4 linked regions of the Homo sapiens genome follow. The protein of the gene in region 3 binds, or shares a complex with, the protein of the main gene of each other region. Each region holds a gene or a part of one and is shown on either strand. Other genes may lie near its edges. The genes, in order: KAT5, EPC1, MBTD1 and RUVBL1.

Evidence for each region.
Region 1: MBTD1 (region 3) and KAT5 share a complex: the UniProt entries of both Homo sapiens proteins name them as parts of the nuA4 histone acetyltransferase complex.
Region 2: MBTD1 (region 3) and EPC1 share a complex: the UniProt entries of both Homo sapiens proteins name them as parts of the nuA4 histone acetyltransferase complex.
Region 4: MBTD1 (region 3) and RUVBL1 share a complex: the UniProt entries of both Homo sapiens proteins name them as parts of the nuA4 histone acetyltransferase complex.

The regions. Positions count from the first base shown.
Region 1 is NC_000011.10:65,708,295-65,715,275, reverse strand, and holds the start of KAT5 (histone acetyltransferase KAT5), read right to left. Parts: upstream 3,025-6,981; 5' UTR 3,009-3,024; coding exon 2,831-3,008; intron 2,511-2,830; coding exon 2,442-2,510; intron 2,355-2,441; coding exon 2,218-2,354; intron 1,956-2,217; coding exon of another isoform or gene 1,929-1,955; coding exon 1,773-1,928; intron 1,684-1,772; coding exon 1,609-1,683; intron 1,503-1,608; coding exon 1,428-1,502; intron 782-1,427; coding exon 533-781; intron 456-532; coding exon 366-455; intron 1-365. UniProt on the Homo sapiens protein: Catalytic subunit of the NuA4 histone acetyltransferase complex, a multiprotein complex involved in transcriptional activation of select genes principally by acetylation of nucleosomal histones H2A and H4.
Region 2 is NC_000010.11:32,288,153-32,295,178, forward strand, and holds part of EPC1 (enhancer of polycomb homolog 1), read right to left. Parts: intron 5,586-7,026; coding exon 5,440-5,585; intron 5,043-5,439; coding exon 4,836-5,042; intron 4,493-4,835; coding exon 4,344-4,492; intron 3,483-4,343; exon of another isoform or gene 3,305-3,482; intron 3,171-3,304; coding exon 3,011-3,170; intron 1-3,010. UniProt on the Homo sapiens protein: Component of the NuA4 histone acetyltransferase (HAT) complex, a multiprotein complex involved in transcriptional activation of select genes principally by acetylation of nucleosomal histones H4 and H2A.
Region 3 is NC_000017.11:51,201,027-51,208,052, forward strand, and holds part of MBTD1 (MBT domain-containing protein 1), read right to left. Parts: intron 5,980-7,026; coding exon 5,862-5,979; intron 2,900-5,861; coding exon 2,765-2,899; intron 2,203-2,764; coding exon 2,114-2,202; intron 1,910-2,113; coding exon 1,675-1,909; intron 1,052-1,674; coding exon 996-1,051; intron 671-995; coding exon 566-670; intron 1-565. UniProt on the Homo sapiens protein: Chromatin reader component of the NuA4 histone acetyltransferase complex, a multiprotein complex involved in transcriptional activation of select genes principally by acetylation of nucleosomal histones H4 and H2A.
Region 4 is NC_000003.12:128,099,796-128,106,821, forward strand, and holds part of RUVBL1 (ruvB-like 1), read right to left. Parts: intron 5,130-7,026; coding exon 4,978-5,129; intron 1,854-4,977; coding exon 1,764-1,853; intron 950-1,763; coding exon 800-949; intron 1-799. UniProt on the Homo sapiens protein: Possesses single-stranded DNA-stimulated ATPase and ATP-dependent DNA helicase (3' to 5') activity; hexamerization is thought to be critical for ATP hydrolysis and adjacent subunits in the ring-like structure contribute to the ATPase activity.

The sequences.
Region 1 (6,981 bases), on a different chromosome or scaffold from region 3:
GCCTACTCTTCAGAACACCACTGCAAGAAATCCCCTCAGCCACTTTGTCATCCACCAAGGCTGAAAGGTAACCCTCTATGAAGCTCTGCTGACCACCTCCTTTGGGTCCTGCTAACCTACCCTCTGTTTCATGACACTTAGGACACTGGGAGCTAGAGGTCATTGGTATGACTGTCTCTCCCATGGACTAAGCTGTCAGAGAACAGAGACTGTCTCATTCCTGGCTACCAGCACCTGCCAGACAGCAGGAACTCAATAAAAATGGGCTGGACTGATCTGCTGGCTTGACTGGTCAGTGTTTACCTGAGCAAGAAGAAGCTGTCATTTGATTCACCCCAGCGCCTCACTGCCTCTCAAGCACTAACCTTGTTCTTACGTCCATCAATCTCAAAGAAGGAGATGGTGCCCTTGCGGTAAATCTCATTGCCTGGAGGATGTCGTAGGTCACACTTGGTCTGGGGAAGAGAGGAGGATCAGGAACAAGGGCAACGTGGAGGGTGCTGGGAAGGCAGCCTCCCTGGACCCCTCATACCAAATGACGCTGAAGACACTTGAGACTACGGCCGTACTTGAGGCAGAACTCGCACAGGTAGAGGACAGGCAATGTGGTGAGTTCCTGTGGGTACGGGGAGAAGTACCACGGCTTGAGGCGGTGCCGGCCCAGCTCAATGCACTCAATGTTCTTCATCCGGGTGACGATGTCGTCGTGGCTTCGATCAGACACCAGGCTGCCAGTCATGCGTGGTGCTGACGGTATTCCATCAGAGCTGTCCTGGGAGTCCTGCCCAGGGCCAGTGGAAAATACCAGGTTGTAAGAGACAGCTCAGCAGGACACCACAGCTCACAGCCCTTTGACAGGTTTCCTTCAAGCCTAACAGCAACCCTAAGGGGGAGGTACCATGATCCCCAATTTCCAGATAAAAAACCTGAAACCCTAAAGGATCGATGATGTGGAAAAGATCACCCAATGACCCCATTTTTTAGATGGAGTCTCAGTCTGTCGCCCAGGCTGGAGGGCAGTAGCGCGATCTTGGCTCACTGCAATCTCCACCTCCGGGGTTCAAGCAGTTCTCCTGCCTCAGCTTTCCGAGCTGGATTACAGGCACCCGCCACCACGCCTGGCTAATTTTTGTATTTCTAGTAGAAACAAGGTTTCACCATGTTGGCCAGGCTGGTCTCAAACTCCTGACCTCAGGTGATCCACCAGCCTTGGTTGGACTCCCAAAGTGCTGGGATTACAGGTATGAGCCATGGTGCCCGGCCCCAATGACTCATTTGAACAATGTTCTGCCTGTCTCCTAATCCCACCAACACTAGCTCTGCCCACCACCCCTTCTTTATTTTTAAACTCATCACTAAATAACTCTCCACCCTGCCTGCATCCCTTCCTTTTCACCCAGTTCCCTTCTGCTGCTCCCCAGACCCACCTCATCAGTGCCCAAACAATTCGATTTTCGCTTCCGTCCTGGCTGGGCTGCCACTGCCCTACGGGCGGCTCCATTCTGCCGAGATAGTAGGAAAAGAAGGGATGGCTGTGAAATGAGCCTGAAAAAAGCCACCAGAGAGTAGAAGAGAGGAAGAGAACAAGAGATGGTTTGGGGAACTCACCTGGGGAAAAACCGAGGCCGGGGCTGTCTCGCTGGGCACTGGAGTTGCTGGTGAAACCACCTCCACCTTCCGTTTCTGCAGAGAGAAACCAACAAAGGTGGGTCAGAAGGTAGAGAAGGTGGGACCTGAGAAGAAAGCAAGGTCCCTGGAATTGCTGAGGGTACCGTTGAGCGGTGGTTGGGCTGCAGGCAGGAGCTGGAGGAGAGCGGCTGGTCAGGCTCGCCACCGGGAATGGCCTCCCGCTCCTTGGGCAGGTTGAAGCGGAGTGTGATCTGGACCGGGATTGGCAAGGTCTTCCCGCTGGCCTGCGCCGAGGCCGGCTGTAGAGATAGGTCCAGGGTCTTCCTTTGGGGCGGGGATGGCAGTGGGATGGGGAAGGGGAAGAGGGGTCCCTCACCTCAAAATTATCAAACCCCACCCTCGCCTTCTGAAGGACACAGGACTAGCTACTGGACTCTGGGAGCTACATGTGCAATTTGGCCCCCATCCTTTGCAAGATGAAGTCAGGGTGAGAGGGAGCCGCCTCCTGCCCATCCAGGAGCTCCTAATGCCAACAGACAAGAGAAATAGGAGGCAGGAGAGAAAAGGTGAAGTGGGGGACCTACTCACCACCTCTCTCTCTGGAGAGCCAGGACGGGACCCAGGAAGTCCGTTCTTAGTGGGGGTCTTGGCCTCTTTCTTGGGGAACTGGATCTTCTTTAGGTCCAGCCGCTCATGCGTCACCCATTCATCCAGACGTTTGTTGACTGTAGCAGTGGGGATGGCTCAGGACAGAATGCCAAAGACTGTCCCCCAACCCTACCCTGATGCCCCACCTCAGGCCCAGAACTCACAGTCAATGTAATGGACGTAGAAAAGCTTCCGGCCACTGATGTCCTTCACGCTCAGGATCTCGGCCAGGGCTATGAGAATAGCATAGACAGGGGCCTTAGACAGGCCAGGCTATGAGACTCCACCCTTCCACGACCTGAACTCCACCCCCAGGCCGGATCCCTAAGCTCCAGCACTTAGGTCTCTCCTAAGCCTCCTTCAGTCACAAGTGCCACCCCTTTCCAGGCCCCGCCCTGTACCTCTCGGAGCAGCTAAGAGCCACGCCCCTTCATCAAAGTATCTGCGCCTCGCCCGCCCCATAATTCCAGACGCCCCTCCCCATCCCGGGATTTCAGTTGACTCCCGCCCCTCGCCCTCAGGTTCCTTAGTCCCGCCCCCCAACGTCACTCACGCCACTCATCTTCGTTGTCCTGGTTCCGCCGCAGCACGGGTAGGCGGCAGCCCTCGATTATCTCCCCCTGGGGAGACAGCGCGACGCCAGGGTCGGCTACTGGGGGGCCTCGGGCTCTACCCACCTCCCCTGGCTCCCTCCGCCCCGCCCCGGGCACCGGACTCACCACCTCCGCCATCTTCCCTCCCTCCACTGCCACTTCCGGCCCCTCTGGGAGACGTCACTTCCGGGACCGAGCGCCCTGTGGGCCCGGGCCTCACGAAGCCCCTGTAGAGGGGGACCTTTGAGAGACACCGCGACCCAGCTGCGAGGGGCAAGACTGCCCCTGTGACTCGGGGGAAAACGGAGTGTTACAAGCCTCAGGCCGAGCCCTAGGTGGAAACCCCATAACGTGCACAGCCAGTGGCGGTCTACTGAGTCCGTCACGTGACGCCCACCGGGTGCGAAGCTGGTCACGTGTATGCGGAGCGGGTCACGTGGCAATACCGTTTTTGGCTTTGTCGGAGGGAAGTCCTCGGGCGTCTCCTTGTGGCGGCGGGAGGTGTTGCCGGGAGTCAACTGGGCGCGAGAGGCTGGAGAAAGGAAGTGGCCTTAGAAGGGTTCGAACGCTCCCCCAAGTCTGTGGACTTCATTCCGTAGGCAAGAGGACTCAGGGAAGATTCCTAGCTTTATTTTGTATATTAGGCTTTTTTAATTTGTATATATTTATTTTTGAGACGGAGTCTCGCTCTGTCGCCAGGCTGGAGTGCAGTGGCGCGATCTCAGCTCCCTGTAACCCCCGCCTCCCGGGTTCAAGCGATTCTCCTGCCTCAGCCTCCCGAGTACCCAACTAATTTTTGTATTTTTAGTACGGGCGGGGTTTCACCATGTTGGCCAGGATGGTCTAGAGCTCTTGACCTCGTGATCCGCCCGCCTCGGCCTCACAAAGTACTGGGATTACAGGCGTGAGCCACCGCCCTCAGCCATATTAGGCTTTTTTTTTTTTTTTTTTTTTTTTTGAGACAAGGTCTGGCTCTCTCGCCCGGGCTGGAGTGCAGCCAGCGAGGCACAATCTCCGCTCACTGCAGCCTCCCCCTCCCGGGATCAAGTGATCCACCTCAGGCTCTCTAGTAGCTGGGACTACAGGCGCGCACCACCAAGCCTGGCTAGTTTTTTAAAATTTTTGTGTAAACAGGGTTTGGAGACTGGGCATGGTGGCTCACACCTGTAATCCCAGCTGCCTCCAGTCTAATCATGAGAAAAACATCAGACAAATCCCAATTGAGAAACATTTTACAAAATACCCCATGAATACTCCTCAAAACTGTGAAGGTGTCACCGGTGGAGGGTGTACAGGTTCTTGGCATCTAAAATAATGGGACAAAACGGCTGGGCGCGGTGGCTCACGCCTATAATCCCAGCACTTTGGGAGGCCGAGGCGGGCGGATCACGAGGTCAGGAGATTGAGACCATCCTGGCCAACACGGTGAAACCCTGTCTCTACTAAAAATAAATACAAAAAATTAGCTGGGCGTGGTGGCAGGCGCCTGTAGTCCCAGCTACTCGGGAGGCAGAGGCAGGAGAGTGGCGTGAACCCGGGAGGCAGAGCTTGCAGTGAGCCGAGATTGCGCCACTGCACTCCAGACAGAGCAAGACTCTGTCTCAAAGAAAAAGAAAAAAAAAAAGAATTGGACAAAATGCACAAAGCAAGGAAGGAATGAACGATTTATTGAAAATGAAAGTACACTCCAGTGTTGGGGCCGGCTGAGCATAGGTGCTCAAGGGCCCAGTTACAGAATTTGTTGGAGTTTAAATACCCTTTGGAGGATTCCATTGGTTATTTGGGATATGCCATATGTAAATGAAGAGGATGAAGTAAAGTTACAAAGTCATTTAGGGTGTACTCCCTAAGGAGAGGATATTTCCTGTCATAACTGAAGTGTGAATCAGCCTTATATGTTCCCTGCCTCCAGACCCTATTTTCCTGCCTCAAAGGTGGCTGAACATGGTGGCTTACGCCTATAATCCCAGTGTTACAGGAAAGGGGTCCCCATCCAGACCCCAAGAGAGGGTTCTTGGATCTCGTGCAATAAAGAATTCAGGGCGAGTCCAGCACTTTGGGAGGCCAGGCAGGTGGATAACCTGAGGTCAGGAGTTCGAGACCAGCCTGACCAACATGATGAAACCCCATCTCTACTAAAAATACAAAAATTAGGCAGGCGTGGTGGTGCGCGCCTGTAATCCCAGCTACTCGGGAGGCTGAGGCTGGAGAATTGCTTGAACCCAGGAGGCGGAGGTTGCAGTGAGCCAAGATCAGGCCACTGCACTCCAGCCTGGGAACAGAACAAGACTCCGTCTCAAAAAAAAAAAAAAAGAATTGAGGGCGAGGCCATAAAGTGAAAGCAAGTTTGTTAGGAAAGTAAAGGAACTCAATGCTGGTTGCCCATTTTTCTGGTTATTTCTTGATGATCTGCTAAGCAAGGGGCGGATTATTCATGCCTCCCCTTTTTAGACCATATTCGGTAACTTCCTGCCGTTGCCATGGCACTGGTAGGAGTGCAGCAGTGAGGACAACCAGAGGTCACTCTGGTGGCCGTCTTGGTTTTGGTGGGTTTTAGTTGGCTTTCTTACTGCAACCTGTTTTATCAGCAAGGTCTTTATGACCTGTATCTTGTACCGACCTATCTTATCTTGTGACTTAGAATGTCTTAACCGTCTGGGAATGCAGCCTAGTAGGTCTCGGCCTCATTTTACCCAGCTTCTATTCAAGATAGAGTTGCTCTGGTTCATGCAACTCTGACACCGAGGCAGGCGGACAACTTGAGGTCAGGCGTTCAAGACCAGCCTGGCCAACATGGTAAAACACCGTCTCTACTAAAAATACAAAAGTTAGCTGGGCACGGTGGCATCCGCCTGTAATCCCAGCTACTCAGTCAGCCAAGATCGTGCCACTGCACTCCAGCCTGGGCAACAGAACAAGACTGTGTCTCAGAAGGAAAAAAAAGAGGCCGTGCGCAGTGGCTCGCTCCTGTAATCCCAGCACTTTGGGAGGTCAAGGCAGGAGTTCGAGACCAGCCTGGCCAATATAGTGAAACCACATCTCTACTAAAAATACAAAAATTAGCTGGGCGTGGTGGCATCTGCCTGTAGTCCTAGCTATTCAGGAGGCTGAGGCGGGAGAATCGCTTGAACCCAGGAGGCAGAGGTTGCAGTGAGCCAAGATTGTGCCAGTGCACTCCAGCCTGGGCAACAGACAGAGACTCCATCTCAAAAAATAAATAAAATAAAATAAAGAAAGAAAAGAAAAAGATGTTGCTCAGGCTGGCCTCAAACTCCTGCCTGCAATCCGCCTGCCTCAGCCTCCCAAAGTGCTAGGGCCACCGCACCCTGCCATTGTTTTGTATATTAGGTTTCTTTTTTTTTTGGTCCAGTGGCTCACGGCTGTGATCCAAACACTGGGAGGCTGAGGTGGGAGGATCGCTTGAGCCCAGGAGTTACAGACCAGCCTCGGCAACAGAGCGAGACTCTGTCTCTACAAAATTTTTTTTTTTTAATTAGCCAGGCGTGGCGGTGGCCCTCGCTTGTGTTCCCAGCTACTCAGGAGGCAGAGGAGGGAGGATCGCTTGAGCCTAGGAGTTCCAGGCTGCAGTGAGCCGACCACTGCACTCCACCCTGAGTGACAGACAGACCCTGTCTCAAAATAAATAAAGACCTCTTGCCCTTAGGGCGCTTACATTTTTGGAGTTTGGGAGAGAAGAGGACAGGTATAGATTGTCCACCCTCAGCAATGTCACCATCCCTGCTGGGCCACATGCAAAGTGGATAGCAAAGAGAAAGACAGGACTCACCCTTCTACGTTAGCTCAGAGTTTTGGCTGGAAGGGTGTTACAAAAGTGTTTGCTTGAGAAAACTAGCGCCTCCTCAGACTGAGTCATCTTCAAAATAGCACTTGCTTTCCATTCTAAATGTCACCAGCACAGAGGACCCCAACTCCATTTTGCCATTTTCAGCAGAGTTTGCAGAATTCACGGAGACACATGGGTTGCTTTATCATAGGGACAATCATGGTAACACCTAGAGATGATGCACTTGGGGGTCGGGCATGGTATTCAGCACATGATGGGCATCCAAAAATCAATAGGTCTTCTTAACCACTAATAGTGTGCTTAAAG
Region 2 (7,026 bases), on a different chromosome or scaffold from region 3:
CCAAACCATAAGGCATCTCTCCACAATTTCTACTGTTGTATTTGACAGGATAATCAAATCAAAAGTTGGCCATGGCAATGCAAAACATTATTTAAAAGCTAACATCAGCTGTCAGCTAGGGCAGTGCTTGAGGACTACATTATTATCTATTACTTTTTTCTTTTTTTTTTTTTTTTTTTTGAGATGGAGTCTTGCTCTGTCACTTAGGCTGGAGTACAGTGGTGCGGTATCAGCACACTGCAATCTCCGCCTCCCAGGTTCAAGTGATTCTCCTGCCTCAGCCTCCCAAGTACCTACTAATTCAAAGCCTTATGCTATGCTTAGGTGCTATTACTACCCATTTACAGCAATTTGCGCTCGCTAATTTTTTGTATTTTTAGTAGAGATGGGGTTTCGCCATGTTGGCCAGGCTGGTTTCAAACTCTTGACCTCAAGTGACCTGCCTGCCTCTACCTCCCAAAGTGTTGGGATTATAGGCATGAGCTGCTGCACCCGGCCTAAAGTAACTTTCAAGTATGAGTGGCACATATAGAGGAAAGCAAATAATAGGATAATTAATCTTAAAATATGATAACTGAAGGATAACACTAAAGTAGTCCACAAAATCATGTAGGGCTCAGAGGGGGGGACCACATTAAAATAGTTAAGAGTGGGAGGTCGGGTGGGGTGGCTCATGCCTGTAATCCCAGCACTTTGGGAGGCCAAGGCGGGAGGATCATGAGGTCAGGAGATTGAGACCATCCTGGCTAACACGATGAAACCCTGTCTCTACTAAAAATACAAAAAATTAGCCAGGCGTGGTGGCATGCGCCTGTAGTCCCAGCTATTTGGGAGGCTGAGGCAGGAGAATCGCTTGAACCCAGGAGGCGGAGGTTGCAGTGAGCCAAGATTGCGCCACTGCACTCCAGCCTGGGTGACAGAGCAAGACTCTGCCTTAAAAAAAAAAGTAACAGTGGGAACAATCCCATTAAACTTTAAAGATACATTTAGAACTAATATATTACAAATGCAGGACATAAAATTTAAATAAATGCAAAATTTAAATAAAAACTTACATGAGTAAACTAAAACAGTATTTTGGGGCACAGCTCTAACTTTCCAGATCATTGAAGAGAATAACGAGAATAACTCTACTCTCCCTCCCACCCTCCCCTACGTTTTTTAAAAATCAAAATGTCCATGTTAACAAAGTGGGAAAAAAAAAAGTCCATGTTTTTTCACAAAATGGTCTGGTCCCTGGCACTGCTTTAAATAACTCCCCGCCTCCCCCTGCAAAAAAAGTCCAGGCTGGGGAAATCATCATTCATTCTAACTGTGTGGCAGGTTGTACATTCAGGCTTGAAGGTCTGTTTACCACAATAAAAAAAAAACCTGAGTGAGCATGATATTAAATGATGCAGGGGAGATAAAACTGATGGCAAATTTTCCCATTCCTCAAATTAAACTGGTATGGTAGATGCAAAGTTTCATGAAATTTTTTTTTTTTTTTTAGACGGAGTCTCGCACTGTAGCCCAAGCTGGAGTGCAGTGGCGCGATCTCGGCTCACTGCAAGCTCTGCCTCCCAGGTTCACGCCATTCTCCTGCCTCAGCCTCTGAAGCAGCTGGGACTACAGGCGCCCACCAGCACGCCCGGCTATTTTTTTTGTATTTTTAGTAGAAACAGGGTTTCACCGTGTTAGCCAGGATGGTCTCGATCTCCTGACCTTGTGATCCGCCTGCCTCGGCTTCCCAGAGAGCTAGGATTACAGGCATGAACCACCGTGCCCGGCCATGAAAAATTTCATACAAAAAATGCATAACGTACTTTTTCCTCAGATGTACACTTTCCAAGAAAGTGCCACTTAATTAATGGCTCTCCTTTATTTACCTCAGTTTTCCTTCACTAATTTTATTTCCTCTCACAAATTTTATTCTTCACAAATTGTGACTTAGTTAAGTACTAATTTGTCAAATATTTCCATTTCTAAATCATTATATTACTATTAAGATATCAAAATTCCCTCTTATACACTATTGTGTCCACAAAAGACAGAAAAACTCATTTGAGGCTGGGTGCAGTGGCTCACGCCTATAATCCCAGCACTTTGGGAGGCCTAGACGGGCGGATCACCTGAGGTCAGGGGTTTTGAGACCAGCCTGGCCAACATGGCAAAACCCCACCTCTACTAAAAATACAAAAATTAGCCCAGCATGGTGGCGCGTGCTACCTGTAGTCCCAGCTACTCGGGGAGGCGAGGCAGGAGAATCGCTTAAACTCGGGAGGTGGAGGTTGCAGTGTGCTGAGATCCGGCCACTGCACTCCAGCCCGGGTGACAGAGCAAGACTCTGTCAAAAAAAAAAAAAAAAAAAAAAAAAGAAAGAAAGAAAAACTCATCTGATCAGGGAGGATTTCATGTCTTTCTCCCTAACTCTCCATATTTTGTATGAATTATTTCAATACTTCATAATCCTACAACTTGTAAAAGGAATATTTTTCCTTTTATCAGATATAGTAACAAAAGCTTCCCTTTATAAGGAAGAGAAACAAAAATAAAATTTTAATTATAGACTTCTGCTTTTCTTCATATTGTGGCACAATCATTGCAGTATACATTAAGGTGGGGTATATATGTATTTTTCTTTTTTTATCTTTTTTTTTTTAGATGGAGTCTTGCTGTGTCACCCAGGCTGGAGTGCAATGGTGTGATCTTGGCTCACTGCAACCTCCACCTCCTGGATTCAATTAATTCTCCTGTCTCAGCCTCCCTAGTAGCTGGGATTGCAGGCGCATGCCACCATACCTGGCTAATTTTTTTGTATTTTTAGTAGAGACGGGGTTTCACCATGTTGGTCAGGCTGGTCCCGAACTCCTGACCTCAGGTGATCTACCCACCTCCGTGTCCCGAAGTGCTGGGATTACAGGCGTGAGCCACTGTGCCCGGCCTATGTGTGTTTTTCTTTTTAACTTTCATTCTAATGATAAAATACCATCCCATTATTAGATACTATTATCACAAAAACATTAATCACCTTATTAACTTTGAACTCCTTCACATCCATTGCTTCCTGGTGTTTAAATTGACTGCTATTAGTAATAGGGATGATGGGGATGGCATAAGTAGGTTTCATTGGCTGTCTCTGTGCCATAACCTCAGACATGATCTCTCCATTGTAGTCGCCCAAATTATACCTAAAATTATACAAATGAAAGTTTAAAATTATATATATTTAAGGAATACAATGTGATGTTTTGATATACATTTATACTGTGAAATAATTACCACAATCAAGCTAATTAACATATCCATCACCTCACATAATTACCTTGTGTGTATATGTGGTGAGATTACTTAAGATCTACTCTTAGCAAATTTCAAGTATATAATACATTGTTATTAACCATGCTGTACATTAGGTCTCCAGAATGTATTCATTTCATAACTGTAAGTCTGTACCCTTTGACCAACATATAAAATATATAATTTTTATTTGTCAATTATACCTAAATAAAGCAGGAAAAAGAAGAAAATTTTGGAAAGTTAGTTTTATAAGTATTTATCTTTATAACCATTAATAACTAGCTGACTGAGATATAATTATAAACACCAATTACATTTAAGGCAAGATTGTAGTTAAACTTTGACTATTCAATTTCTCTCAAAGATTACATAATTCCTTTTGTTTCTTCCTTTTACTTTTTTGGCTTATAGCTTTATCATGGCATATAAATAGAGGATTGTTGGGAAAAAATCAAAAGCTGGAATTTTAATGTAGCAATTTTGGTGAAAGATTTGGTGAAGTTGAAAGTAATGCCTAAAATGGTGCTAAGGATCTTTCTGCTAATTAGAATTGCCTGGGCTTTAAAACTAATTTTTCTAAAAGTAATCACAAGAAATTTAAAAGTGGTTTTCTTTGGGGATAGGGACTAGAAATAGGGCAGAAGTTTTCTTTAAGTTTTCATTGTGTACCTTGCCAAATGCTTGAGTGGTAAGATATATGGGCCTTTCTCCCTCTTTCTTTACCCTTTTCTATTTAACAATCCAGTGTTTTAAATTTTATATGCATTAAAAAAGAAGCAGTACTATCAATTAACTCAAGTCCTACATGCAACTCAAGGACCAAAAAAGACCACTTTGAAATGGAAATACTTGGTATGTTTTAACTTAAGTGAATCCAGTCACTTTTAAAGAAAATAGAGGAAAACATGTAAAAGTATAAAAAGTATCATACCACATATTTAAAGTCTCTATTATTAAAAAAAGATATTTCTGTAATTAGATTATTGCATAGGAAATAAATTAACTCAATATACAAAATGTTAATGGCACTATACTTCCTCTAACATTATTAAAATATACATTACCTCTTTTCCATAATTTCCAGTGTTAAGTGCAATAGCTCTCTTTTACTTTTTTCTCTTCTTTTTATCATCTCTAGAATAGTAACAGCTCGACTTAGATCTCGTCGCAGCTTAAGCATTTTTTCGTAAGAGGCTTCATCATTTTTGCGATTCTGCAAATGTGAAGTTGCTTGTTTAATGTTAGTAAGTATTTCTAACTAGTGGTATAGTTATTGACCCATAAAATTTATATATTTGAAGGGTTAAATTAGAATTTAAAGACAATAAAAGGGAGCACAGATCACCAGGAAATCAATTTTGTATTGATTTTTAAATGGATTAACATTAAAATATAACATTAATAGCTGCATAATAAATCTTAAGTTCAATTTAAGTATTTTTCTTATAATTGGAAAGTCATATTTGAATATAAATTAAACCACAGTATTGAGACAGTCATAACTATAAATAATTTTTATTATATAATTATCAAAAAAATTCTTCAAATTCACTTACTTTTCGAGTCTGCATTTTTTCAGTACGCCTTCTAAAAGCCACATAAGGATCATTTGTGCTGGAACCATCTCGCTTCTCTTGTTTTACTGATGGAATAAGAGATGGCCCTCGACAGTTTTTTCTCTTTTTAATCCAATATTCATAAACTTCTCTAATTAGTTCATCATCTTCTTTTAGCAGTAGTTTGGCTTCCTGCAGACTGACTGGCTAAATGTAAAACCATTATGTCATTTTCATACAATACACATACAAGGTTCATAAGTATTTACTTCTAAATTTAAAGGACAATAATCAATATTACAACATTATTAACAAATGGGAAACTTGAGGAGTACATTATGCCTGTCAGTCACTGAACTAGGGTGCTTTATATACATTATTTCATCTTTACGACAATCCCAGGGCAACCAAGGCACAGAAAAATTTAAACATATTGCTCAAGATTACACAGGTTACTGATAAGCAGAGATGAGATTTGAATTCATACTTTTTAACTCTAAAGCCTGACTGATTACCCCCAACCTGCAATCTCACACTCTTTCCATACAATACAGTTCTTTACATAGAATATGTATATACTTGTTATATACAAATGAAGTTGTACCTGCTGACCACTGCCTTTTTCTAGGCGGTCAATCATCTCCTCAAATTGCAATGGGCAGATGTCCATTTTCTTTTTCAGTTTATTCACAAATACTTCATCTTCAGAATCCAAATCATAATCAGGCTGTTCAGCATCCAAACTAAAAGCTGACAGAAGGAACCATATGCAATCATTTACTGTGTGAATTCACCGACAAAAACTCCACAGATGTCTGCATAAAAACAAGACCTAGACTTTCTAAAGAAATAAGAAAGAATTCTTGGATTTTGTTTTCAGAGTCGCAAACAATCTAAGCTTAGATTTGTCTTACACATTTAAAGTTAAAGAAAGGAGATTATCTTTACTATGAATATACATATAAGTAATAAAAGACAATGGATGCGACACCCTCCAACCACTCCTAAAAGCAAATACACTAGAAGCCTATTAAGAACATAAAGCGATCATTAAAACTTATTTGGTTGAACCATGTGAAGTGCCATTTTTATAGCTCAAAAATCATCACATAGGCAATTTTTATAATATAAAAGGAGAAGGCCTTTAAGATTTTTTTCTATAATATTTAAGTCCTATTTTGTAGATTATTCAACTACTTTACCAAAAGCTAAGGGAGTGGTCTTTAAAGTTGAAGTGTTAGAAGCCACTACCAATAACAGTACAGGTTGAGAATCCCTCACCCAAAATGCTTGGGACCAGAAGTGTTTTGGATTTTGGAATATTTGAATACGTATAATGAGATTTCTTGAGGGTGGGACCCAAGTCTAAACACAAAATTCATTTTTTTCACATATACTTTATATGCATAGCCTGATGGTGATTTTATGTAATATTTTAAATAATTTTGTGCGTGAAGTTTTGACTGTGACCCATCATCACATGAGGGCAGGTGTATAATTTTCCACACGTGGAATCACATTGGTGCTCAAAAATTTCGAACTGCGGAGCATTTCAGATTTTGAGTTTTCAGCAGCTGTCACTCGGTGAGTATGTTCCTGCCTAGGAAGTTTGTTTCTCTACGCGAACACTGTCATGCTGATGGAAATGGGAGGATCTTAGATCTGCAAGAACCGCTGCTACTATCAAATGTTGTTTAATTACTTACCAAAATTAAGCTAGGTTGATATGAATATAAGCAAAATATTAAATAGCTTTAATATAAAAATTTGTCTCACATCTTTCCCTTACTTAATTCCTTCTACTAACATTACAGTCCACATCTTTAGAATGGTATAAGGCCCTTTTTTCCTATTCTCTCCAGTGTTATCAGTTCTTTATGATCTAGTAACATCAGATTTCATTGATTTCATGCAGTATGCTATTTCATGACTGCAGGCCTTTACAAAAATCCCTGTTTTTCTGCTTGCCCACCAAGGAGGCAAATGCCTATTTATTCTTTTTAGCACCCAGCCTGGTATCACTCATCTAGAATCCTTTTTTGATTTTTCCCCACCCAAGAAGTGGTTCCTAACCACTTTCATCTTTTTTAGTGGCTAAGAACCCACTTCACATACTTTATAATCTGCTTGTTAAGCATGCCTCCCTATTAGAATGTGTGTGATCTCTTTAGGGAGAGGCATGCCTTCTTTA
Region 3 (7,026 bases):
CCTGTGATCCCAGCCACTCTGAAGGCTGAAGTGGGAGGGTCACTTGAGCCTGTGATCACACTACTGCACTCCAACCTAGGCGACAGAGAGAGACTGTCTCAAAAAAAAATGAACAAACAAACAAAAAACCCAAGAATTTCTCTTCTAGGTCTTTTTGTAAGAGCAGTTTCAGATGAGGGGGAAAAGAGAAAAGCAGCAAAAACTACTACCAAAAGGAAGAAAAAGGCCTAAAGAGGAAACACAGGAAACTGAAGATAAACTTGGCCTTGTTACAATTCTGAATTGGACTAGCCTTGTCTAGAAGTAACTTAAATAAATATTTTTCCTCTAAATTAGGATATACTTCCATAAATAAGTGTAGCAGACTCAAAATGACAATCTTGACAATAAACTATGTAAGATCAGAGGATTCAAATTTATTTTGAAATTCCTAGCAACCTTCTCCCCAGTGAAGATATACACATACACATTTTATGTCAAAACGAATATGCTTGGGGACTCCTTCTATTAGCTTATACCCAAATCCTATAATTGCATTTCTATATTTTAAAACCTATTATCTTACCTTTCTAATGGTTGCGACACATATTGTAGAAAGATTTAATGGGTCTATAGCTTCCAATTTCATTCCTTCCTTGAACCATTCCCCACTCTGGTCTACTTCTTTTACCTAAAGAATTATATGAAAGCACATCTACTGTTACAAATGTTGTTATTTTGATAATTAAAATATTACCAATGTGAAAAGATTTACCAGGTGCCTTCTCCTACCTACCTAATATTATAACTCAAACTTCCATTAAGGTTTAGAGAGAATTCAGACAAATAGAATTTAAGAATAATTATAATAAAGAGTTGTGACACCTATGAATTTACAAGGTCTTAATTCTTTTAAGTGAACATATGTAATTGTGATTTCCGTAATTTTAGGAAAAAACCCACAACCCTCTTTCAAACCTAATTTACAAATGAGGGTTCTTATAAAAACTTCTTACCTTAGCAAATAAATGTGGTGGTGTATCAAAATGTCCATCCTGTTTCTTTGTAATATCTACAAGGAAAAGTTACACACTAATCTGTCAGCATTTGTGAGAAGACCAAAAACCACGTTCTTTGAAGGCTTCAAACTCACAAAGTATGTCATACTATAAAACATGGCAAGAAGACATGCCTTCTACATTTGGGGTGAATATTCTTTAATAGTCTTTTCTCTCTTCAGAGTACATGTGCATATATGCTTTTAAATACATTCAGCCAATTTTAATGCTCATAATTTTAATGTAATTCCCTAGTTAGAAAATTACAACTTTAGAAGCATGTTTTCATGTGCTTAGTATTAAGTCTAACCACATTTAATCTTGCTATTTTGATTAAAATTGAATGGAAAGGGAAAGGTATCTTTAGATCTTTCAAATGGGCTGAATAATAAAAGAAAGAAACAATTATAGTTGTGACCAGAAGAAGTTCCTTCTTTTGGAGAACAAGTGGAAGGAATATAAAAAAATTTATTAGGACACTAATATGGTGTGAACCTTCACTAATTAAGGTAGAAGAAGCAGCCCAAACAACTAGAATGCTATTTTTCATCTATGCAATTCTGCAGAGAAAAATAACCAACTAGTATAATCAGCCTCAATGATGCTTTTGACAGGAGTTCTTGTGATAGGTGCTTACCAGATCTTTTGAATCGATGACCTATGCTTCGAGACCAACCAATATGATGTATTAATGGGCTGTGCATATGGCACCAGAAGTCATCTGTTCTATCTTCGCTTTCTTCATACACTAGTCTTAATCTTCCTCCAATTACACTTTCCACCACTGCTACTCGTGTTCGACACAAATGCCTCTTGTCAACCACTTCTACTCTCATGCAAGGTTTGAAAGGATACTGCATACTCTCTGAAACCTTAAAAGCATACAAAAAAAACTGCTCGAAATTCATGACAAAGGTCTACAAGAAATTTTTGTATTATACTGTAAAAAATACTGAATGCACTTGAAATGTAACACAGATCATCTGGTTCACAAAATTAAACCAATTCCTTAAAAATGTTCTCTGTTACCCTTGTTTTTTAGAGCTCTTCAGTCTTTATAAGATCCTGTTTTTTACCTTTTGGGAGAAATCAGGAGGCAGTGTTTTGGCACCAGTAAGTCGTTTCACTAGAAAAGCTTTCCAGTTTGTATATTTATGCTGAATAGCTAAAATAGAAGAAATAATCAGTTATACTTTAGCAAAAAAGAACTGCTTCATAAATTATTTGTTAAAAAAGTAACAAATTTCCTTGCAAAGTCAGGCTATTAACATTCTGAAAAGTAACAAATATAGAGAAAGCAAGTATATGCCTTGCCAGCAAAAAGCTGCTTAACACCAAAAAAACTATTTTAATTTCTTTCTTTTTTTTTGAGATGGAGTCTCGCTCTGTTGCCCAGGCTGGAGTGCAGTGGCGTGATCTTGGCTCACTGCAACCTCCATCTCCCCGGTTCAAGCGATTCTTCTGCCTCAGCCTCCTGAGTACAGGCATGCACCACCATGCCCAGCTAGGGAGAAGTTGAGATGGGGTTTTGCCATGTTGGTCAGGCTGGTCTCAAACTCCTGACCTCAAGTGATCCGACTGCCTTGGCCTCCCAAAGTGCTGGGATTACAGGTGTGAGCGGCCATGCCCGGCCTTTAATTTCCATATTACTCTAACATTACTATGTGTAAAATAGCATTAAAGTACACATATAAAAAAATTACGGTAAGGGTAAATAAACTACTTACTTCTAGGAGGAACAAGAGGTTTTCCGCTGGCTGCACACCAACCAACTGGATGGATATCAGAACCACATATATTGCACCAGAAGTCCAGACCAGAGTCATTTTCAAATCCTTCATATCTTAAAAGGGCATTGTAACCTGAAACCCAGAAATAAATCACTACATAATAAGAAAATAAAATTAAATAAAACAATACAGCATCTGATAGCAGTTGTCAAACTAGTGTCTATCTGCAATACAATCACCTGCAGGGTTTGTTAACAGACAGATGGCTGGGTCTCACTCCAGAGATTCTGATTTTGTAGATCTTGGGTGGGAACTGAGAATATGCCTTTTTAACAAGTCCTCAGGTGATGCTGTTGCTGCTGGTCTATGAACCAAACTTTGAGAACCATCTGTTCAGTGCAAACAGTTCAACTGTTTTCAGAGCATGGCATCCTTACATGTATTTCAATTGTACCCATAATTTCTTTTTCTTTTCTTTTTTGAGATGGAGTCTTGCTCTGTTGCCTAGGCTGGAGTGCAGTGGTGCAATCTTGCCTTACTACAACCTTGGCCTCCTGGGTTCAAGCGATTCTCCTACCTCAGCCTCCTAAGTAGCTGGGATTATAGGCATATATATGTAATTATACATATAACATACATATTTATGTATAAGCATATAAACATATAAAAATACATATTATATATTTATTTATATTATATATAATTATATATATATATATATTTTATGAAGACAGGGTCTTGCTCTATCGCCCAGGCTGGAGTGCAGTGGTGTGATCTTGGCTCACTGCAACCTCTGCCTCCTGGGTTCAAGTGATTCACCTGCCTCAGCCTCTTGAGTAGCTGGGATTACAGGCGTGCGCCACCATGCCCAGCTAATTTTTGTATTTTGTAGAGATGGGGTTTCACCATGTTGGCCAGGCTAGTCTCGAACTCTCAACCTCAGGTGATCTGCCCGCCTTGGCCTCCCAAAGGGCTGGGATTACAGGCATGAGCCACTGTGCTTGGCCTTGAAATGTATTTCAAAGAAATTGCTTTATCCAGCTGCTTAGGTGGCCAATTACTCCTGGGTAATTTGAATGTGGCTACTTTAAGAATCTAAATTTTTCTGTCGTATGTATTTGGAAATAAGATTTGAATATGCCAGGTAAAAAGTTCAATAAACACAAAGAAAATTATGTAAAATGAGTTAAAAACTATGTCTTAGGCAAATAGGAAGGCTTACTCTTGGAAAGTACAAAAAATATGTAATATATCCTATTTATAATTCTATAAACTTTATGTTGATAAAAGATTACGATTTAATTTAAGGCCTTTAATGAAACAGAAAAAGGCCAATATATGTGTATTTCAGGTTAGGAGACAAGTTTAGTCAGCATTTTCATGTTTGTGAAAATTTATAGCCTTAAATGTTCAGTTTTAAAATTCAATAATTTCTCAGAACAATTTATGAGTTTGCTAATTACTGCTGAACTCTAGCTTCTGGTTAACATTAGGCTCACTTCTACAATGGCATTAAAGTGGCTTAAAAGAAGATACATGATGCAGTTAGATAAAACAGAAATGTAAAATCGGAGATGGAAGGCAGAAGTAATTTTTGGATAGTAAATGCACTGATCTTAAGAGCTATTTAAATGTAACTAACTTAAACACCCAGGGCAAAAATAATATGCTGTTGTTTTAAATTACAGTGTAGAGAATAATACAAGCATTTAGTGAATGCTTATACAGCTGGGAAAATGTTTCAAGAAAAAGATGGGGAATTGACTTGGGTAGTAGTACAGTTCAGTACAGAGATGGGACACTCTTGCAAGAGTAACCCAAGGCACAGAGGTGACAAAAACGTGCTGTATGAAAGGGAGAGGGAGACTGGCCTCATCACAACAGATCATTTATGCTGGAGAACTACAATACATCTGGCATGTGGTATATGGTGCAACTCATCAATAGTCATAAATGCTGGCTATCTTGATCCTTTAAGTACAAAGAGGCCATAAAAGATGCTTGAACAGAAAAATAAAATTAAAATAATTTTTAGGTAAATTAAGTCAATTAGCAGTACACAACAGAGCAGTCTACAGTGTGTTTTGAGGAGAATGCCGGAAATAAAACTAGAGAGAGTGGGAGGAGTTAAAAATCTGTCACAGTAGTAATTGAAGATAACTTTTCTTATGAGTGGCTGCCTGCCTCTCCTCCACAATGCCCTACTACACTACTCACTGAGTATCTTGTCATATTAATACCTGGTAGTAGTCAACATTTGGCCGATGTGAACATGCTGGAAAAAATACAAGTCTTATACTTCTGGATATCATCTTTTGTCCACATTGTCTACCATAGTAGATTCCTAACATGTTTACTTCATGAGCAGTAAAGGGCTTGGTATGGTGGAGGCAGTGGGAATAAACAGAACGGAAGAACCCAAGATATATAAAATTATCAACACTTGTATCAATTTGGTATTAAGGTTCTTACCACTTTATTTTTATTTTTTTAAAATGGAGAATGGGTCTCGCTATTTTGCCCAGGTGGGTCTTGAACTCCTAGGCTCAAGCTAACCTCCCGCCTCTGCCTCCCTAAAAGCTGGGATTACAGGCATGAGTCACTGTGGCCAGCTCTTACCACTTTTTTTAGTACCTCAACTTTTGTTACTTTTCAAAGTAACATATACATTATGGCCTATATATCTGGTCTATTGCTGGATTATTTTTATGGCTGTGATCTAAGAATTACTTTTACATTTTTAATGGTTGAAAAGAAAAAAAGGATATTTCATGATACATAACTATTATATGAAATTCAAATTTCCTGTAAATAAAGTTCTACTGGAACACAATCATGTCCATTTGTTTATGTATTGCTAAGGGTGCTTTCATGCTATAATGATAGAGACGGATAGCTGTGACAGAGATCATATGGCCTGCAAAGTTGAAAATATTTGTTTGGCTTTTCACAGAAAACAATTTGCCAACCCCTGCCCTATATCATAACATATTTTTTATTTGGCAATACTTGCAAAATTTATAAACATGCTTTTTTTACGAAAGGTTACAAGGATCTCTGCATTTTCTACTAAACTATTATTCATGCTTTTCACCTGCTAATTTTACAATTCCAGCAATCCAGAAGACTTTGGTAGGTAGGCTGCAGTCTGTATTGGGAACTTCTACTCTCACATTTTCTGAGATATCACCCCAGCAGGTCCCCATAGGTGCCTGTCACATAAAAATCATTAAATTATTGTCTTATTAACATAAAGCCTAAAACATATCAATGAAAATTAAGCAGTACCATCAATAATAGGAATATTAAACTAAAAATGTCATTTTAATTCCGTTTGTTTCCTAGAATTCTATCTGGAAAAAGCCAGTTTCAGGGACAAACAAGATAAAGAGAAAATTCACATATATTAGACTAGATTCATGCTGACTTCAAAATCTGATACTGTCCTAATATGAGATTTAAGCAGCGATTTTTCTATGAGTGGAATTACAAACTCAATAGCAGATTTAATAGGATTAAACTGATTTAAGAAATTTTTAATATGTACTGAGTGAATACACTTCACCCTAATTTCTACTTTTAAAAGATCTGGCCTAAGAGCAGAAAGAAAAACAATTCCAATCAGCAGTGTGGTTTCCAACAACATGAATAAGAGAAATGAAAATTTTCAATTTAAATTAAATTCATAGATTAGAAATCTAGTCCACATAGATGGACGTGAGGGAAAAGCACTGGATAAAGTTATTAAGAAGGTGGAGTTGAAGAGTTTTGGAGATGAGTACCATGGTAAACTATTTAAATTATTATTTCAAAATTTCTCATGTAGAAATTACTATAAAGAGAAAACTTCCAATGTTAGAACCGGTAATCACTAGCCTCCCACAGCAAATGGTTAAGATGGGGACTCGGAAAATCAATTAAATGAGCATCATGAAGGGATTTTCTGAAATCTAACAGATGTTCCCAAAGTATTGTTTCCATTATATTTTAATCTTTAAAACTCAAGGCAATTCACAATTACTTGGAACTTATGCAATGGTAAATTAAATCAAATAAGCAAATTTAAGAATATAAATGCTGATAACACTAAACAGTTTGTGTTGCTCTGGACAGTCAGTTCCTCATTCAATTTAGAATGTTGATCATAAAGAAAAGGATTATGTGAGGTTATAAAAGACTTGATAGTATGAACAAATCAGGAAAAACCAAAATAGCCTCAAAGCTCAAAGATGAGCAAAGATATCTAGGAGTTACATGAA
Region 4 (7,026 bases), on a different chromosome or scaffold from region 3:
CCCCAAACCACAGAAAACCCAGAGACCCAAAGTGACAAATTAACCAAGCTGGTCAGTGATGGAGCAACACAGTTCCTGACTTCTGACTCCCAGCCCAGCACTCTTCTCAGGTCAAGGGCTCCCAGGAGGTCAGTTTGGGGATGGCCATTTCACCAACCAAGGGGACCTGTTGGTCCAAGATGAGTCTTCAGTAATCTCTTGACCAAAGCTCCAAGGAACAAAACACCCACGGATCAAATTTCAAGTCAGAAAACAAACTATTCCCTAATAGTGACTATTCACTATTTCCTAGAAATGTCATATAGTGATAACATCCTTTCCTGCACTTTACTAGCCAAGGCATAAGTATCCATCTGTATGAGAAGCAGACAACAGTACCAGCTCAAAGCTAAAACACTGTGGCTTTTGCTAAGCAGGGGGAAAGAAAGAGCTTTGTTAGGCTTTCTGAAATCCTGTAAAGGGCTCATAGAACACTCCTGCCCTCCTGCCATTAACACCCAGAAAATCCCAGGTGTGAGCCCACTGCTGGAGTGAAGCCATGGAGGAAGCTGGCTAGCTCAGGGCCAGAGGCTTGGCTGGGATAAGAAACAATACACATGAAATCATCTGTGACTAGAGCATTTGAATGGGAACAAAGGAGTCCCTCGTAGCTCATGTCGATGTTAATTGCTGAACATTACAGATAGAAAAGGACCGTCTACCTCAAGAAAGGCAGCAAGACTCTGACAATTCATTCCCAGATCTCCACACACATACAAAAGGGCTAATGTGCCAGATCACCCAGGCATCGAGGCAGTACCTGGGGCCGCGCATTAGCCACATCCAAGTCATGCAAGGTCACATCTTGGATGATTTCTTTCTTTTTGTGCACATCCCCTTTTGGCAAGGGGACATACTCTTCAGCTTCAAGGTCGAATTCTGTGGCATAGGTATCACACCTGCCCTGCCTCTGCAAAAAGAGAGAAACATGAGTGCCTGGTAAGTTTTCACTGCCAAGTCCCCAAATGGCACAGGGCTAAGTGAGATAAAGGTCTCAGTTCCCACTGCAGGCCTGACAGCCTACTTGACAAACTCCAAATATGCCCCACTCCCCTGCTGCCAAGAGAAGGGAGCTATCTGCTCATCGCTGGGCTCCAAAAACTGGGTTGAAAAACACCTGATACTTTCTCCCAAAATCCTTTTTCCCTTCTTTCTTTTAACTGTATGCAATTCCTGATAAAGGCCAAATCCAGTAGATTAACTGGAGGCAGAGGAGCTGCTCAGACTCTTTTGTAGGTGGATGATTTATTGTATGATATGAAGTATTATGCCCATCCATTAAACAGTGAGGAACACTGTACAGGACCCTGAAAATCAGATAGAAAAGAATGCCAACGAATGCAGCGTTCCTTCCCACATGCATATATCTTGGGAAGAAAATACCAAAGAGATAAAAGGAAGATTAAATACACTGCACATTTCAATTTGAAAGTGACTAAAGTTGTTTTGGTTTCTCACCCTGTCCTCCCCCTCTGAACAGGTTTTAGTATTTTTTCTAACAGACTATCTGTTTTAATCGCGAGAAGGTTAAAGAATGAAGATAAAGGGAAGGCAAACTTTATTATACATAAAGGGCCACTAGTTGACCTTCCATCAGCCTCATAACAGACACCAGCCCCTCCCCACACACCCCACACCCTCTGAAGAAAGCAACTCCCTTGTCACTTAGGTCTTCTCATGGCAAACAAATCAGGGACAATGCTGTGTCCCAAGGAAGGCATTACCTTCACGGCCCCACTGTTGGCTTCAATGTAAATCACATCTCCAGCTTCTACTCGCTCTTTCTGCAAACTTTCAAAAATGCTGGGGTCCAGCTAAAAAAAAAAATGTAAATCAGAAGTGTAATACATATTCCATTTCCTTCTGACACCATGTAAGGTACCTTTCCGTAAGGGATCTGAGGTAGCTAGCAGGTGCATGGAGAAAGCCTGTTTTGCGTTTGCATGAATACTGGGACCTGCAGGAGTGTGAATGCATAAGTACCACACAACAGACTGGCTGGGGGACTAAGCACACCAGGGAGAAAATAGGGGGGCCAGCATACCTGCATCCCTATGTAACGAGCATGAGAGGGACACAGGGGACACGTACTCTCCTCTTTCCCTTGATTCCAAAGGCTGTAAACTGGCAGCAGCGCTTTTATAAGGATGGTCCTGGCTGCCGTGAGACGGGTGGGCCCAGCCCCCACTGTCCACAGGACCACAGGCCCTATCACCCCTCTTGAAATCATCATCCCTACTTCACTCCTTCATTTGCCTCACCTCAGGTGGGGTGGAACTTTCCACAACTGAAGTACCTGCCAGCACCTGCTTACCAATCTCAAAGCTGGCATCTTGCAGGGCCTTTGATTTTGGATAAGGTTCTCAGTTCTAAGTTTCCTCATCTATACAACAGCACCCAGGTGCAATCACAGATGTATACAGTAATTCAAAGAAAAACATAAATGAGAATCTTTCCCAAGCCTTTTGACTCACATCCCAGTGTTTGTGCCCTTGGGTCTGCCTGCTTATATCTCCAGGAAAGGAAATAAGCAGATTTGCGGAACTGTTGCTTTTCTCCAGATTCTGGTGACCCTCAGTGATTAATATTCTAGGACAGCTGCCTTTGTAAGGATTCTATAGTTAAACACAAGTTTCTCGAGGTCTTCATGGAGATCTATGTTATACAATGTAGCTATGGTGGAAAAAAAACTTGGGCTTTGCCCAAACAAAATTAAAAAGTGAAAACCCAGGACTTGGTGAAAGAAGCCAGATACAAAAAAAGACATACACTGTATGTTCCATTTATATGAAATGTCCAAAAGAAGGCAACCGAAAGTAGATTAGTAGTTGCCGAGGGCTATAGTTGGAATGGGGAATGACTGTAAATGAGTAGGAGGATTCTTTTTGGGGCGATGAAAATGTTCTGAAATTAAGATTGTGGTGATTGTACAACTGTGAAAATAAATTAAAATTCCTGGAATTGTATACTTAAAATGGGTGAGTTTTATTTAAAATGCTATCTGAATAAAGCTTTTAAAAAACTACCACCACAGCAGCAAACCCAGGGTTCTGCCTCTCCTTAGCTGGGTGGGGACGGCAGACCCTGGCAGAACTGCTGTGAGTCTGTGCGCCTAAGGACAAAAGTGGGTGAGGCCCCCAGGTAAGGCCTGGCAGGAAGGGGTCATGAGTACTAATGGCATTCTCGTTGCTAGAACTCAGAAGACTCCTTCAGACTTGAATATCCACCAAGTATTTGAGCACCTTCTATCCAAATATCTTGTACATATTCTAAAAATACCTAAAAGTATTCATTTTGGAAGAAAAATTTCATCTTCTCCTCTACATTATTTTTGTAAAGAAACTGTACAAAGCAGTGTTACAAATAGCTGAAATTTAAACTGTACGCCTTATTTTATCTGTCCTACATTGGAGAATATACTTCTTTTTTGCCTCAAGCATTTTTATATCGGTTAATTTCCCAAATGAATTGACTGAAGATGTAATTACTGGAAAGGTGGCAGATGCTACTGAGAAATCTAATTAATTCAGAATGGAAGTGACGAGGGGTAGGTATAAAAGAGATATTTGCAGAGGCAAGTTCCTGAGATGGAAACCCTGTTAGGAAAAAGAAAAATGGCCCTTTGAAGAAGTGACATTTTTATGATCTCCATAAAGCAGTGACCAAGAAACAACCTCAGAGAATCAAAGAACCATAAAATCGTAGAACAGAATAAAAATGGAGAAATTATATGGTCAATCTCCTGCAGTTTATAGATGAGAAAACTGAGTCCCAGAGAGCTCAACTGACTTCCAAAGGTCACACAGCAAGCTGGTGGGCAGACAGTACAACGGTTAGGACTCAGAGGGTCAGCTCTGCCACATGACTGGCTGGATGATCCCAGGATAACCATGTAACCTCTTTATGAGCCTTCATCTGTTAACATGAGGAAAACTATACACACATACACACACGCAAACATATACACATATAAAGTTATGAATGACAATAAATGTTTGTTGAAGCACTTAGTCCAAGGCCTGACACATACAATAAATGAGAGCTATAATGATAATATTTATTAATAATAATAAGGCAAAGCCTAAAATCCAGACTGCTCCATTTCTCCAAGTGAAGGCTCTCACGATAACATTAACAGCTATCATTCATTAGGTAACTAGGTGCCACACCCAAAGCCATAACCCTGAAAGACAGGCAATTATTATTCCCATTCAACAAATAAAGAAACTACTACTCAGAGATTAATGCCACACAGTTGTAAGTAACAAAGCCAGGGATTCCTTAAGGACTTAGACTCCAAAACTCATGCTCTTCCCCTAGAAACTCTACTGCCTCCATCCTAAAGACTTACAGGACAGGTGGCTGAGGACTGTCTTTGAGCGCTATCCAGTGTCACCATTCTGGCCTCTCCACAAAGCCCTGTACTAAACAGAACCAGCCACTGAAGCGACCACAGGTTCCTGACACAAGCAACTGCAGTCAGGATTCTGCATGTGGCCCCTGGGAAGCCCATCCATCATCTTTATACAACTCTTATTTGATTACTCAATGCTGTTTCTTTCTATGAGCATGGGCACTGATAACTGGAAAAATTAATGCCCAGGTTCAGACCCAGCCCAGGGTATTTGATGCATGGTCATAATATGGGACATGGGATGGCAGAGGCAGTTTCTTGACTTAACCACACAGCTCACATTTTAACATGCAGAGTTTCCTAGGAGTAAGTAAGAAAAGAGCTATCTTCCTTGAGTCCTCCTATGTGCAAGCCCTATGCTAGGTACCGCTTTATACACACAATATCCTCAACCAATTCTGTGAGAAATCAATACCTGCAGTGCACAGGTCAGGAAACTGGGATGCAGAGAGGTTACACCACCTGCCCAAAGCCACACAGTGCTGGGAGAGTCAAGGGAAAAGAGGCCACATACATGTACTCACTTTCAACTGTTTGGTTCCTTTGGCTGTTTTGAGTCCTATGATCACATGGCTAATGGTTTTGCCATATCCTCCCATGGGATTCTCTGTCTCACACGGAGTTAGCTCTGTGACTTCACCTTCATAAACTTCCTTGGTCTCCTTTATTCGCAGCCCTGGAAGAGGTGGCAGAGGGGCCATGGTGAGAAGCAGAATCTTTTCTCTCACACTGAGAGCCCAAAACTTCCATGTCACCAGAACTGCCAAATCAACCTTAATAATGTACATTCCAGGGTGTCATGATGGGTAAAAAGGCAATACAAACATATCAATGTAAATTAGAGGCACTATTAGAAATGCAACTTTTTTTTTTTTTTTTTTTGAGATAGAGTCTCGCTCTGTTGCCCAGGCTGGAGTGCAGTGGCACGATCTCGACTCACTGCAACCTCTGCCTCCCCGGTTCACTCCATTCTCCTGCCTCAGCCTCCAGCCTCCCGAGTAGCTGGGACTACAGGCGCCCGCCACCACGCCCGGCTAATTTTTTTGTATTTTTGGTAGGGACAGGGTTTCACCATGTTAGCCAGGATGGTCTTGATCTCCTGACCTCATGATCTACCCTCCTCGGCCTCCCAAAGTGCTGGGTTATAGGTGTGAGCCACCACACCCGGCCTAGAAATGCAACTTTTTAAGGGAACTTTCTAGGTTCAAATCCAGAACTAGATAGACAAGTTATAATTCTTAAAATTGTCTGCTTCATTTCCAAGGGGGTGAAATTTACCTTTAGCCTTTAATCCAGTCTCTGAACCCACACTATTCTATTCCACCAGAACAGTGGCTATCAAAACTCCTGTAGCCTTGTTTCCTGAATTTCTGACTCTCAAAGGAAATCTTAAAACCAGTGGAATAACTCATTACACACCCTCTGACACTATGAAACCTGAGCAGAACATACTAAAATAATTAGGTATCTATGTCAACAGTGGGTGACACTCAAAACTGCCAGGTGTTATGGGCCTCTGGCTCTCACTGCATACTCCAAGAAGAAATACCCAGTTGTCATGCATTATTTGCAATGTGTTGCTCTACAATTTTCTTTCTTTCTTTCTTTCCCTTTTTCTTTTTTTTTTTTTTTTTTTTTTGAGATAGAATCTCATTCTGTCACCCAGGCTGGAATGCAATGGTGCGAACTTGGCTCACAGCAAGCTCCGCCTCCCAGGTTCAAGTGATTCTCCTGCCTCAGCCTCCCAAGTAGCTGGGATTACAGGCGTGCACCACCACATCTGGCTAATTTTTGGGGTTTTTTTGTACTTTTAGTAGAGATAGGTTTCACCATGTTGGCCAGACTGGTCTTGAACTCCTGACCTCAGGTGATCCACCCACCTTGGCCTCCCAAAGTGCTGGGATTACAGGTGTGAGCTACCATTCCCAGCTGCTCTACAGTTTTTCTAAGGCCATAACAACAAAACCAATTTCCAAAGCACCTTACATTAGAATATTGCAAATAAAGGTAAATTTCTCTCTGAATTCTAAACATCATCCACATTAGCTCTTTAATAAACGTTTGTTCATTATCCAAGAATCATTGTTAAATTAACTTTTAGAACGTGATCTCTATGTTCATTACATGCTTTTGCATATAACGGTTCTGCTTCCTGAACCACTCTTTTTAGCTTAGGCAACTCCTCCTAGCAGACTCAGTTTAAAACGTATCCCCCCCCCCTTCACACATTCTTCTTCCTCATCCTCCAAATTGTCCCCATGGTGACCTGTGTTTCCACTGGCACAGCAGCAGCCCACGGCAATGCCATAACTTGCAGACCTTGCCTACCCCTCTGCAGATTGCCCACACCTGAGCTGAGGGCACAGCACATAGGCAGGTAGAGTGAATGGATGAATGAATGAAGTCACTAAGAGTGAAGGGGTTGTCATTAGGCACATCATCTACTAATAATACCCAAGAAACGAACCTGCAGATACATTTACATGTTCTATATGGTAATGGCCTGAGAACTCTAAGGAGTCAGCCATGTAATGTTATAGCCTGTATCACCGAAACACCCTCAACCTCAGCAC